Linked DNA regions of Homo sapiens. The protein of the gene in region 2 interacts with the protein of the main gene of each other region in a pairwise test. Each region holds a gene or a part of one and is shown on either strand. Other genes may lie near its edges.

Region 1 (3,653 bases), on a different chromosome or scaffold from region 2:
ACCCCCATAAACGGCTAACAGTTTTTCAGAGCATTCTGCCCAGCGGGCCCTGTCCACAGTGCACAACAAGGCACAGAATGAGTTGTCTTACCTAACTCTTATCACTCCCATTATATGGATGAGGTTCAGAGGTCAGCAGCTTGCCCAAAGTGCTCAACTAGTGGGTAGCAGGGCTGAGCTGTGAGCCTAGGCAGTTTGATGCCAGAGTCCTAGCATCTAAGTCATCTCACTCCTCATGCAAGTCTGTGGGGACACGGGAGGGTCTCTGAGACTTGGTCCTTGGAAAGATGCTGGCATTGTCCTCTCTGGCTCCACTGGGAGCCCTGGCAGCCCCAGCTGGGCCCTGAGTGATGCTGCCAGTGTCTACCTACATCTGCTCAGTCCTCCTCACTGTATGGAACTCTGTGCCAGTGATTGGACAGGTGGCAGTCCCATGAGGCCAGCACACAAGGACCATGATGACTGTGAAGGCCACCTCAGAAAGGTCGTGTGCCTTTTCCCAGGCCTTGTGAGTCTCAGACAAGTGCAGCTGGGCAGAGCCCAGAGCACCACGGGCAGGAAATCAGACTGGTGAGTGGGCGAGTGGAAACTGTATCTGGGCTGGGCCAGCTAGGAGAGGCTTCCTGGAAGAGGTTGCCAGTTTAATTCAGACCTCTGGTTTGAGAAGGATGTGGATGACAGAGGAAGGCACAGGGTGTATGTGTGTGCCTGTGTGTGTGTGCACTCACGTGTGTGTGTGTGTGTGTGTATGTGTATGTGTGTGTGCATGTGTGTGACAATATGCCTGGTTTAGACATTCAGCACCTGCTGTGGAGTACCAGTTTCCCACTCGCAGACCTGTGTTCTGGCAGGATGTGGTTGACCTCAGCAGGGCCGGTGTCAAAGTCCTGACAAAGACTGGGAAGCTGAGGGAGGACCAGAGGAATCTGTGGAGGAAGAGGCGTTTGTGTAGGGCCTTGAAGGGTAGAGCACCATTGCTGAGGGTGCTGCAGGGACTCCTGGGTCACTTGGGCTGTTGTTCAGACTATATGGGAAGGACTCAGTTTTCATTACAACAGAGGTCTGTTGTATCTCTTCTGAGCTTCACACCTGGGGAAGTGGAGTTAGATCCCTCATTTTCCTCTGCTGGGGACATCATCATGGAAGATCTCTGGGTGGAGGCAGTAGTTGGAACATCTGGCTCTGTAAGCCCGCAACCTCCCTTGGCTCCAGGCTGCCATGTCTAATGGTGAAGGCCCATGGGCAAGAGCTGAGGACATCCCTAGGTGAGAGGCATTCCAAGCATACCTGTGCCATGAGAGTGTGCACAAAGCGCTTCCTGGAGAGCTGGCTCTGCTGCTCTCAGGACAGTGAGACCATGGCTCCTGTGAGCACTGGTGTTTTCCCTGGAGAACATTAGTTCTACTGCTCTCCCTCCATCTATTGGACATCTTGTGTGGTCCCAGATGAAAGGCCCCATCTTGGGGTTGAGAGAGGAACAGTGCTCTCGGCTTAAAATGCTTTCTGTGACATTCTCCCCAAGTGACTTTGGACTAAAGGCAGTTTCATAATCTTTTGCAAAACCATCATCTTTGTGGTGCAGTTGAACCCTGGGTTTGAATATGTGGTGGGGAGTAGGATCCAGTCTCGGTGACTGTTACTATCCCTGCATTCATGCTATGAGACAACATAGGCCGGCAGACACTCAGAAGGCAGGGCTCTCATTTGGGGTGGCCTGGGTGCATTTGCTGGTGAAACATTATTGGTTTTTATGAGGACTCACTTGGGTGCGCCCTGCACCTGGGGAACCCAGCCCCTTGAGGGACAGGAAAGAATGGCGTGAAGGGAGCTCTGGGTCCTGGGCTCCTCCCCACCCTCCTGCCCGTTTGGAACTAAGTGGATTAGGCCCTGTGCAATTGTGATTAAAATCCTGCTGTGTGGGAACCGTGGAGGTTTGGCTTAGAGCAGGAACACGAGGCTCCCGTTTGGGGAACAAGGAGCCTCAGGAGGCCCTTTCAGCACTAGACAGGCCAGAGATGCTGAAAAGATTGCTTTTGTTTTTGAGGCGGGTTTGGGATTAGGGTTGCCTTTTTCTTTAGACTAGGGCTTTGTCTTTGCTGCCTTCTCCTCATGGCACTAGCGATCTTTCTGTCCTCTGCCTCCTCGTCCCTCTCATTTCTCCTTTTCCACCTGTTTCTCCTGCTATCGCTCTGTCCCCGCTCTCCCGGGCCTTGCCAGTTTGCCTGTCTCGTGTGTTTCAGGCCTCATGGCCTCTTTTCTGCAGCCTGGCAGGCTGAGGGCAGGCGGAGGACAGAGCAGGGCCAGGTCAGGTGCTAAGGACTCATCCTGGTCAGCGGGCAGCTCACTCCCCCACCCCCACCCCAGGGGAGGGTGGGGGTGGGGAAGGAAGGAGGAGTGAGTGCTGTACCCATGCCACTCACAGTGTCCCCTCCTGCTGCCCGCCTTGACCAGGTGTCAGCAGCCTTGGCAGTCAGAACAGTGGACTCAGGAGTTCTTGGGCTGAGCTGTAACCTGAGGAGGTCCCCCGCCACCCCCCCATGGCTTGTGTGAAGTCAACTTCAGCTGCAGTCTCTGCTGTTGGGTCTCCTTTTACGGCCCAATGGTCTGAGACTTTTGCTTGGGACAATTGTGTGGGACTAGGCACAGTACGACCCCCAAGGGTTCCCTAGCCACAGTGAGGTATAGACAGGGCTGAGATCTGACCTGAGTCAGAGCCTTAGAGCCAGCCAGAGGAGCTGGTGGGAGTCTGGGAGGGCTCAAGGTATGAGGTGCAACCTACCGCCATTTTTACAGAGGGCAGAGCTGAGTGTGAGCTGCACCTGCACTAGCTGGTGTGAACACTCAAGACTCTCTAGCTGGCACCCTGCACCTGACCACCCTTGCCCTGCTAAGGCTCAGAGGCTACATTCAGGGGCCTGAGGGACCAGGACCTTGAGCTGCCACACTCATTTCCCCATTCTTAAGGGTTCAGCCTCCACAAGAGACCCATAGCTCATCCACAGATGCTCACCCAACATTAACAGCCCCCTTCTCAGGATGTGGTAGAAGGACTGGCAGGTGTTCTCCGTGCTTTCTGGCAGGCAGTGGCACAGGGGGCAGGGGGATGGCAATAAGGGCACCCACTTGCTGAGTGCCTCCTACATGTCAGGCACAAACACTGCAGAATCAGAATGGATTATCACGCCCATGCCATGGATGCAGAGACAGGTTCAGAAAGGCAGAGTAACTCACCCAGGGTCACGTAGTATGGACATGGCCCTGTGCTGGAACCCAGGCCTGGCTCTCAGCCATTCCTCTCTGCGTGTGTGCTCCTCTGGGGATCAGGAGCCACAGTCTGCTCATCAGCAAAATGAGAGCCTGGGCCGGGCGCAGTGGCTCATGCCTGTAATCCCAGCACTTTGGGAGGCTGACGCGGGTGGATCACCTGAAGTCAGGAGTTCGAGATCAGCGTGGTGAAACCCCGTCTCTACTAAAAATAGAAAAATTAGCTGGGTGAGGTGGCACATGCTTGTAATACCAGCTACTTGAGAGGCTGAGGCAGGAGAATCACTTGAACCCGGGAAATGGAGGTTGCAGTGAGCTGAGATTGCGCCATTGCACTCTAGCCTGGGAGTCAAGAGTAAAACTCCATCTCAAAAAAAAAAAAAAAAAAA
Region 2 (3,232 bases):
AATAAATGGTTAATGTTCACTTAAAAGACAGATTTTGGAGATTGTATTCATATCTATTTGCATTTGATTTCTAGGTCAATTGATGTGATTATTTTTGTTAAATGTTGTCTTGTGCCCTTAACTACGAACTGAATTGTATTAAACACTACAAAGTCATCTTGAGTATTTTAAATCGGTTTGTGTAGTTAGGTTTCCCAACATCTGTGGTTACCTAATGTTTAATATTATAGAACTGTCCTCAGAAACTTTGTCAATTTTCACGGCTATAAGGAAACAGAAGGACTCTTTTAATTCTGTATTTATCATTTACTTTCTGTATATATAGTTTAATAACCTGCTTGGGTGTAATTTGCCAAGCTTGAATTCTTTAATGCATTTGCATAAATTCTATACTGTTTAGAGCTTAAAGCTACAGAAGCATTGTTAGGAATTGCTTGGACACTGAATTTTAAACTTTTTGACATTGTTAACAAGCATGTTCATCTTTTCTTGTCACTAGTCCAAGAAAAATATGCTTAATGTATATTACAAAGGCTTTGTATATGTTAACCTGTTTTAATGCCAAAAGTTTGCTTTGTCCACAATTTCCTTAAGACCTCTTCAGAAAGGGATTTGTTTGCCTTAATGAATACTGTTGGGAAAAAACACAGTATAATGAGTGAAAAGGGCAGAAGCAAGAAATTTCTACATCTTAGCGACTCCAAGAAGAATGAGTATCCACATTTAGATGGCACATTATGAGGACTTTAATCTTTCCTTAAACACAATAATGTTTTCTTTTTTCTTTTATTCACATGATTTCTAAGTATATTTTTCATGCAGGACAGTTTTTCAACCTTGATGTACAGTGACTGTGTAAAATTTTTCTTTCAGTGGCAACCTCTATAATCTTTAAAATATGGTGAGCATCTTGTCTGTTTTGAAGGGGATATGACAATAAATCTATCAGATGGAAAATCCTGTTACAAAGTAGAAAAGCTTTAGTAATTTACTCAGTGTGGTGGTTTTATCCTTTTTTTCTTTTTCTCCCTTGGTCTATAATGAAATTGTTACAGCAGTGCAAAATAAAATCCTATGTATAAAAGTGTTCTTTTTTTTTATTATGACCACCTCTTTTTTAATGTATTTTTAGTCCACTTACAGCTTTTACATGGGTTTAAGCATGTTTTTTAAAAGGGTCAGAATGGTTAACACTCAACCCTTTTTAAAAATTTTGCTAAAATGCGACAAATCTCACCATACTGAAATTATTTTTGTTGATGGTGTAAGCAGTGTAAGCAAGTGTTTTCTCCTGAACTAGCACAAAAGCACTTATGCCTGAAAGAAAGCATAAAGAAGTTCTAACTCTGAAACTAACTACTTTCATTTCGCTCATGGCCTTCAACTTTCTACAGGTCTTCCCTGAAGATTCAGCAGTACTCTCTCAAAGGTTTGACAGTACTCTTGTGGGAAATCACCAAATGCTGTCATAGTTTTGTTTTAACTGTCTCCTTGAGGGCAGAGGGAAGGGTGAGAGAAAATCTGTTTTCATGGGTATTTGTAGTACAGCCTTTTTTTCTTTCAAGTGGCTGTATCAAATTCACTGGTCTTACTAATCACTGTCTTTACCAGTGAGTACAAAAAGTTAAGGCAACTAGGACAGGTACTGCTCTATACCAAGAAGAGAATGATTCTTTGGAAATTGTTATTTTTAAGCTTCTGTTAATTTTTCCAGAAGTTTAGTGCGTTTCTTTTCCATACTTTCTCCCCTAATTCTTTTATTTGAAGAAGAGAACTTAATGGCAAATAAACAACAAACCAGGACATGCATTTTAATACCCTAAGGAAAAATGGAACCCTCAAATATAACTCCTCCCACAACCACCCTAATGTGCCTCAGTCTGGGGCAGCAGGTGGACTTCTCAATAGTTCTTTTCCACATTCTCTACAAATCACATCTACCGTTAAGGAATATGTTATGAATCCTTTCTGTTAATTGAGAAAGCAATGTTATTGTCTGTGATTTCCAGTCTTTGCTCATTTTATTATCCCTGTCAAATAATGTAATATTGGTACCTGCAGTTGAATTTGTAATATTGTAATTGAATTTTTAGTTGATCTTCGATCAGTTTTTATAGCATCTATGGACATAGAAAATCAGTCACTGAAAAAAATAAACACAGCTTTCAATGTCTCACTCAACATGTAACATTCAAAATTGTGATCTTCATAAAGACATTGTTACCATTCGTCTTGCAAATTTAAGACAACTGAATGAAAAGCCAATTTTTTGAAAGAATGTGGCATATAATTAGATATACAACTGAAACAGGATATACAACTGCATACAATTTGTTTTTAATGATATTTTAAAATAGCCTGTTAGCAGGAAAATAGTCCCTATTTATCTGCTAATGGTCAAAAAGAGTTAGGATATAAATCGTACCAAAATGTTTCCAATCACTCAGAAAAACTGATTCATGTCTGGCTTTGCAACACCTTAAACATTTATTCTGTCATAGATAGTAAAGCCCCATCTCAGTTTATTTAGTCCTGAGGTTGGCAGCATGGGGTTTGACTATATGAGCTAAAAGATACACAAAGAGATAACGCTGTTTCATAATAAACAGGAATTGACTATACAAATAGGTAAACCAGCATATCTACCTGTATTTCTCAGAGTTTAGATGTGTGCTTTATGTTTACATTAAAATAAAGCCTAACGCCACAGTAGATCATCTCATACTGCATTCGGATGTACTAGGTATTATTATTTTTTGGTTGAAGTCACGACAGAGAACTTCATTTTATTTATTTTGTTTATTTTGGGAGACAGGTCTCACTCTAATCCCCCAGGCTGGAGTGCAGTGGCGCCGTCTTGGCTCACTGTGACCTCCACCTCCCCAGGTTCAAGTGATTCTCATGCCTCAGCCTCCCAAGTAGCTGGGATTAGAGGTCCCTGCCACCACGCCCGGCTACTTTGTATTTTTAGTAGAGACGGGGTTTTGCCATGTTGGCCAGGCTGGTCTCAGACTCCTGACCTTAGGTCATCTGCCCACCTCAGCCTCCCAAAGTGCTGGGGTTACAGGTGTGAGCCACCATGCCTGGCCAAAAACTAAGTGCCAGTCTATATATTAGTATTAATTAGTTTTACAAAATTATGAGGCCAATTCTTAAACATTGAAGGACAAAGCACCAAACTCCTGATAGAAAAATGGAGGAAAATGAGCAATTTACAAAAAACATACAAAGT
Region 3 (3,653 bases), on a different chromosome or scaffold from region 2:
TTAACGGCTTGTTACTGTCACTCTTACTATCCCTCCCCCGGTCCAGTCAGCCATTATGTCTCTCCTGTTAGAAGGACCTTCTCTTTCCTGCTTCAGTATTTGCTGTCTTTAGTTACCACATCGCAGCCAGGGTGGTCCTGTTGAAAGACAAGGTAGATCATGTCATCTCTGCTCAAACTGCATGATGGCTTTCCATCAAACTCAGGGTAAAGCAAACCCTTTGTTCTAGTACCACTCTGACTTATCTCCCATTATCTGCCCCAAGCTACTCTCCTTTTGCTACACTTGTCTAATTGTTGTTTCTTTGACATACCAACCTGCCTCTGTCTTCTGGGCTTCTCTCCATCTTCCTAGAACTCCTTTCTTTCTTCCATATGAATGTTTGGTGTATTCCTGACTTCCTTAATTTTCCACTTCTTAGTGAGGCCTTCCTTTGTCTCAAAAAAAAAAAAATGTCTTATTGTTGCCCAGGCTAGAGTGCAGTGACATGATCTTGGCTTACTGCAACCTCCTCCTCCAGGGTCCAAGCAATTCTTGTGCTTCAGCCTCCCAAGTAGCTGGAACTATAGGCATGCGCCTTGCCTGGCTAATTTTTGTATTTTTGGTAGAGATGGGGTTTTACCATGTTGGCCAGGCTGGTCTCGAACTCTTGACTTTAAAAAAGTATTAACAACCCTATTCTTCCCAACAGTGCCATCACCCTTAGCTTACTCTCTTTTTCTTTATAGCATATGTCACCATAAGACCTACTTTACAGAATTATCTGTCTTTATCCACAAGATTGTAAGATCCATGAAGGCAGGCACTTGGTCTGTTTTGTTTCATAACTGTATTCTCAAGTGTCCTGCGCATAGTAGGAACTAAAAGGAATTTTGAATGTTCAATGAATTTATAGACATTAAAGGAAAGGCAAGTGGAATTTTTATTTTTTGTTTTTGAGACAGGGTCTCACTCTGTCATCCATGCTGGAGTACAGCAAATGGAATTTTTAAAAGTCACCACCTATTTAGCCTAAAGTTTCCCCCTTTATTTCTTTCATTGCCTAACAACCTAGAAATGCTAACTGAGCCCTAACATAGAACTATAAAACTTCCTGTTTTACAAGTCTAGTCCAACCCTTCATTTCATTGATGTTGAAATAAAGTCCTAAGAGATGTTAGCTATTGTCTCTGAAGTTATAGCCAGTAAATTAGTGGTACAGTTAAGACCAGAATCCAGATCTCTTGAATCTCAGTTGCTTTTTTTTTCACTAGTTTGTGATAACCTTAATATGAGACCAAACTTAAAGAGTCAGTTCCCTATGGAAACAAAGCAGCAAAAACTAAATACATCAGTAAGCAGAAATTGAAATAGATAAGTAGATTGGTGATAGTCAAAGCAATGAAACCTGCTGATGATACAATTCAAACTTTTCCCCCCACTGGTCATTATAATATTTAAATTAGTTTAGTATGTTTATTGTGAAATAAGTAAACATTGAGGAATGTGTTTTTTTGTTTGTTTTTTAACCTCAGGTGCACATGAACTTGAACAGATGCAGCTGATTTTAGAATCTATTCCTGTTGTACATGAGGAAGATCGTCAGGAGCTTCTCAGCGTAATTCCAGTTTACATTAGAAATGACATGACTGAGCCACACAAACCTTTAACTCAGCTGCTTCCAGGAATTAGTCGAGAAGGTATTGTGACTCGAGAGTAACCCTCACGTTAATGCCTGTGTGTGAGGCAGAATCTGTGTAGGGAAGCTGGAGCTTTTTATCCTTAGATATGGGGCTTTCTCCAAAATAGTCTTTAGACACTTAAGGTGTACGTAAAACTTCAACTCTCATTTTCCCTTTTTTTGTCCTGTTACTTGGGCTACGATCTGTTTTTTTGGTTCCTCTGAATCACTTTCCAGAGCAAGTAGCAAGTATTTTGAATATAGGCACTGGGGACAAAATCATGATGGCATTTTTTCCCTCAGATATACTTGGAACTCCTGTAAATGCCTGGATAAAAAGAAAGCTGCTGTATTTAATTTCAGCCGGTTTTGCAGGCTTTTCAGTAGTTCCACATTCTTAATCAGTCTTTGAGTCTGTCTGCACAAATTCCATTGCTAGCTCCCTTGCTCGTAACCCTGTAGCCACTGTCACAACATCCCTGTTCATATCTAAATGAGTCCTCTGTGGGAACACTTTATTTTTATTTTTTATTGAAAAATAGAGACAGAGTCTTCCCTGGGCTGGTCTTGAACTCCTGAGCTCAAGCAGCCTTTCTGCCTCAGCCTCCCACAGTGGTAGTATTACAGGTGTAAGCCACCACACCTGGCCAAGGAGCACTTTTAAAATGCTGAACTAGTAATTCTGAATTGGGAGGTGGAGTGGGGAACAGGGTGGGTGTCTGCATACCCTCTCTAAGGTGTGACTCTGCTCAGCCAGGTGAAGACACTGTGTGCAGTGATAACCTGGATCCACTTCAGAGTAGTTGTCACTAATCAAGAGGACGGTGCTGTTGAAGCATTTGTAACCTTGCTGTATAATGCTATTTGAATCTTTTTCGTACCCTCATTAGGGTGGGGACCATGTTTTAATCTTTGAATTAAACTGAATATTTGGCCACTGACTGGGGTTTATTAACCATTGAGCAAAGATCCTTGGTGGTCACATGTGGCAGCACTGTGCTTGCAAGCAAGTGAATGCAGAGTGGATGGAGTTTCTGAGACTAAAGATTTATCAATTGTATGCTCCATACTACTTTCTTCTTAACAGTGGAGTTTTATTTTGGGACAGAGCACATTCTGAGGCAGTGGCAACTTGGTAAAAAGAATACATGTTCTCACCCCACATTCTTTATGATCTTTGAAGGAAAAAAGCAAACAGGATTAAGTACATCTGAGTGAACGTATAAGACTCCTAGGAGCCCTACTCTGGTTAATTTCCCTCTATACTTACCTCTCATCCTTTCTGTAGTATACCATATATTTCTCTAAGCATGGTTCAGCACCATTGTAGCATTCCTGTAGTCCTAGCTGTTCAGGAGGCTGAGGCAGGAAGATTCCTTGAGCCCAGGAGTTCAAGGCTACAATGAGCTATGATCATGCTATTGCACTCCAGCCTGGGCAACCGCAAAGATGCTGTGTCTTAAAATTATCTTTCTAAAGAAAAGAAAAGGGTTCTTTCTAGAGTACAGGTTGGCTTGAGAGAGAAAGGCCATCTTTCTCACTTAGAAGGCAAGGATAAGAGGATGTGTGAGTGACCATAGTGAAGAGGTAGGGATTGAGACAAATGTGAAGTGGGTTTATCTGTTGAGAATGATAAAGAAGACCGAGAGCATAAAGAGAAGGCCAGATAGCAAAGGTCACAATGAAATTGTTTAGTATGAATTTGTAATGAGCCAGATATGGGATATTGCAGCTAGTTTTCATCAGTTTTGTGTGGCCAGGGAGCAGAGAGAGTAGATGGTGGTGGTGATCCAGGGTTGAAGGTTGATATCATAAGGCATAGAAGTGTGTGGCTGGTGTAAATATAGCTTTCAGGCTGCGTGAGGAACTAAGGAAGGCCTACTAGACTATTTTATGGGAAGAACTGGATTTGTGGTTAACCAGAGTCCTAAGATGTGCAAGGTCAGTGTGTGAACTATGCTGGAGTGTGATGTGAAGCAGAGATCAAGAAATT
Region 4 (3,490 bases), on a different chromosome or scaffold from region 2:
AGAGGGGCCACTGCCCCTAAGCTCTATGTGCCAACAAATGGTTGTGCTAAGCACCTGCTTCCTCCTGGGGGTCGGAGATCTGCACATGCACGAGTCAGAGGGGGCTGCACGACCAGCCCTGGGCTCTGAGGTTCTGAAGGGCTCCCCTCATGGGGAGATTCCACAGGTGTCACCACAACGTGGTGCTGGGGAATGGAGAGCATCCCGTGGGGTCCTCGAGAGGATGCTGAGTCCCACGAGTCCTCCTAGGGCATCTTCCTAGTGAATCATTGACCTGGGTGCTCTTGGTGACCCCGAATACAACTGCCCTGAAAGAATCCATTGCCTCCTGTAGCCACAGGCTCCAGATTTCTGAAAAGGAAACCCAAAATCTAATCCGTGGATGGCTGCCTTACCATCTGAATTAAATTAACCACCTCTCTGGGTATCTTTGGTTAAATGTATGGCATTGTGTGGGGAAAAATGAGCCCTTAATCATTTGGATGGGGACATGTGAGCAGACTGTGATGAACTCCAGAACCATGGGACACATGGGTGAGGAGCTTCCCAGAGTCCTTAAACAGCCCCCAGGGTGACCAGGAATGACAGGGGAGACCGCCACAGCAAATTCGGCCCCTGATTCAGTGGGGTGGCGGGACCCCAAGGAGCAGGACCAGGAGGAGGCTCTATGTACTGGAAAGACAGGTCAGCATAGGAACCGATGTGGTCAGTGGGGCAGCTGTGTAGTCAGAATGGCCCTGCCCACAGAGACCCTTGGTGCTGGCTGCTGGTGTCCCAGGGTGGGGACAGCCTCCTGCCCACCTACAGACTGACACTTTGGATCGCAGGGAAGCTCCCACCTGGAGATGGAAGTCCATCTTGACCCCACACTTTCTGCTGGGGCTCTGCTCAGTGGACGTCCTGCAGGCAGGTCCCGCTGACGGGGGCTCCTCCTGCCTGCTGGTTTAAGTGGAAGCAGCGCTGGAATTATTCAGCTCCTCCTCACGAGGGAGGAAATCTCAGCCAGCCCCGGTATTGGACGTAGGATCGCTCCTTGCGGAGAGTAAACTGGGTTTGTTTCAAGTACCAATGCTGAATTCAGTCCTAACAATTTCAGAAATGGCCGAGCCAAGATGTTTTTCTCTCAGTTTGAACTTTGGATCAGATTCCCAGAAATTGACACTCTGATTGTGCCTGCCAGCAGGGCGACAGGAGCCCACAGTCCTCCGGTGGGGATGAAATATTCAGTTTGACTGTTCAGGCAGGTGACGTGTCCTTCCTCATCTGCAGCCCTTCTATAAAGAGGACTCTTGAGCTGGCAGCAGAGCCCATCCAGGCAGCACGGCTGGCTGAGCAGAGACAAGGTAAGCTCTGGAGAGGCCAGGCAGAGTGGAGGGGGGTGCAATTTCTTAAGTCATGGGAATTAAGGCCAATTGAGGCAGGGATTTCACCTCCAAATAGTGGTTTGAAACCACTGAAATGGAAATTGCTAGGAAAACAGTAAGAATTTTTTTTTTAAATCCATGCCATTTTCCCCAGGGCTGCCCACACTGGGACTGGTAGAGGAAGCCGGCCCTGACGGATGGGTGGTCTCGCCCTTCCTGGGTTCATCCTGCTGCAGGTGGGCCTGAGTCGCAGATCAGGAAGCACCGGGAAGATGCAGGCCTGCATGGTGCCGGGGCTGGCCCTCTGCCTCCTACTGGGGCCTCTTGCAGGTGAGGGGCCGCTCTGGAGGGAGGCAGCCACCAGGACCCCCGACAGCCCTCCTGTTCTCTCCCCTCCCGCATGCATCCCCAGGCTGCTAGGAAACCTTAGAGCCCTGCAGCTGGTGTCGGGTGGGCCCAACCGGCACCTGGGTGGTCCTCCTGGGTGACAGCTCTTCTCTTCCTTTGCAGGGGCCAAGCCTGTGCAGGAGGAAGGAGGTACCGTTCTCCAATTTCTTTCCTTTCATTTGCATAAGTAACTGGTATGCAGCGGGGAGAAACTGCTGGGGAGAGCAGCAGCTTCTTATCCCAAGCAGACGCATCAGGGGCCCTGGCTCAGCTCAGGCCCAAGCATGGAAAACATGGCCCTTGAGAGCCAGCTTGGAGCTGTGCAAGCAGAGGGTCTATGAGCTCCTTCCAGCTGGGACCCTGCCCTCCAGCCACCAGGGAACACACTGGGCAGGGGGAGCCAGGGCCCCATGACCCCTGACATTCCCACTATCAGACCTGGGTTCCAGCCCCCAGGCCCTCCCAACTCTGAGCCCTAGCTCAGTCCAGTATCTTCAGGGCTGCTCTTGCCCAAGCTTTAGGACAGGTTATACGGGGGGTAGCGGAGTGGGGTGTCTGTGCTCTGTTCTGAAATCCCAGCAGGTGGCTGCTGGTGCCCCACACCCTCCCCACACAACTCCTTCCTCAAACAGGACAGGGCTTCCCTCCCTCTCTTCCCCTTCTTCTTCTTCCTCTGTCTCCCCGACCAGATATCCCCAAGGATCTGAGAGGGGATGGGCTCAGGCCCCCACTCTGGGAAGGTTGTATCACTGTAGGTAGAGCTGGGAACCATCCACTTGCCTTGAGACCTCTGAGGATGGTGTCTCCAGGCAGGACCATGGGGACAGCCCCCAAGGCAGGTGTCTTGTGTCTTTCAGACCCTTACGCGGAGCTGCCGGCCATGCCCTACTGGCCTTTCTCCACCTCTGACTTCTGGAACTATGTGCAGCACTTCCAGGCCCTGGGGGCCTACCCCCAGATCGAGGACATGGCCCGAACCTTCTTTGCCCACTTCCCCCTGGGGAGCACGCTGGGCTTCCACGTTCCCTATCAGGAGGACTGAATGGTGTCCAGCCTGGTGCCCGCCCACCCCGCCAGGCTGCACTCGGTCGGGCCTCCACAGGCATGGAGTCCCCGCAAAAACCTGGCCCCTGCAGGAGTCAGGCCTGGTCTCACGCTCAATAAACTCCGGACTGAAGATGCACAACCAGCGTTGTGGGTTGTCTTTCAAGGACAGCTGCGCTCAGGCCCCACTTACTTTATTTCACAAATGAAGCTGGTTTTATTTTGATTCCTGGGGAGCACTTTCATAAACTCTTTCATAAATGTGCAACATTTCCATCCACATTGGCATCAACAAGGGATTTTATATCCTGGGCAGGCTCAGGACTGGCTTTCTGTGTCTCTCACTCATCCATTTCCCACAATGATCCTAGGGGGCACTGCAGTTCCCCCAGATTACGGGTGAGGAAACTGAGGCAGAGACATGCGGTCACAGCCTGACTTGTTAAGGTCACACAGCTGGTTAGGGGGTAGCTAGATTCTAGTCCAGGCACCCCCGCTCTGGGCCACTAAGCTGGGCAGCACACAAACCCACAGTCAGGGCTAGGCTGACTCCACACCATGACACACCCCTGGGAGCAGTGCCCAGGAGGCAGCAGGAAACGGAACTGAGAAACCCCACCTGTATCTGTCATCGGTCAGGGACAGCGGGGCCTGGGCAGGCTCTGTCTTCCAGGGACGGCTCTAGGCTTTGAGGA

Evidence for each region.
Region 1: the proteins of RAB2A (region 2) and MAPKAPK3 interact in a two-hybrid assay, tested with the Homo sapiens proteins (one large-scale study listed by BioGRID and IntAct).
Region 3: the proteins of RAB2A (region 2) and MAPK6 interact in a two-hybrid assay, tested with the Homo sapiens proteins (one large-scale study listed by BioGRID and IntAct).
Region 4: the proteins of RAB2A (region 2) and OTOS interact in a two-hybrid assay, tested with the Homo sapiens proteins (one large-scale study listed by BioGRID).

What each region holds. Positions count from the first base shown.
Region 1 is NC_000003.12:50,623,551-50,627,203, forward strand, and holds part of MAPKAPK3 (MAP kinase-activated protein kinase 3), read left to right. Parts: intron 1-3,653. UniProt on the Homo sapiens protein: Stress-activated serine/threonine-protein kinase involved in cytokines production, endocytosis, cell migration, chromatin remodeling and transcriptional regulation.
Region 2 is NC_000008.11:60,620,916-60,624,147, forward strand, and holds the end of RAB2A (ras-related protein Rab-2A), read left to right. Parts: 3' UTR 1-2,729; downstream 2,730-3,232.
Region 3 is NC_000015.10:52,057,119-52,060,771, forward strand, and holds part of MAPK6 (mitogen-activated protein kinase 6), read left to right. Parts: exon of another isoform or gene 1-137; intron 138-1,514; coding exon 1,515-1,679; intron 1,680-3,653. UniProt on the Homo sapiens protein: Atypical MAPK protein. Phosphorylates microtubule-associated protein 2 (MAP2) and MAPKAPK5.
Region 4 is NC_000002.12:240,138,473-240,141,962, reverse strand, and holds OTOS (otospiralin precursor), read left to right. Parts: upstream 1-1,304; 5' UTR 1,305-1,343; exon of another isoform or gene 1,344-1,458; coding exon of another isoform or gene 1,459-1,479; intron 1,480-1,518; 5' UTR 1,519-1,600; coding exon of another isoform or gene 1,601-1,636; coding exon 1,637-1,694; intron 1,695-1,874; coding exon 1,875-1,901; intron 1,902-2,608; coding exon 2,609-2,793; 3' UTR 2,794-2,937; downstream 2,938-3,490. UniProt on the Homo sapiens protein: May be essential for the survival of the neurosensory epithelium of the inner ear.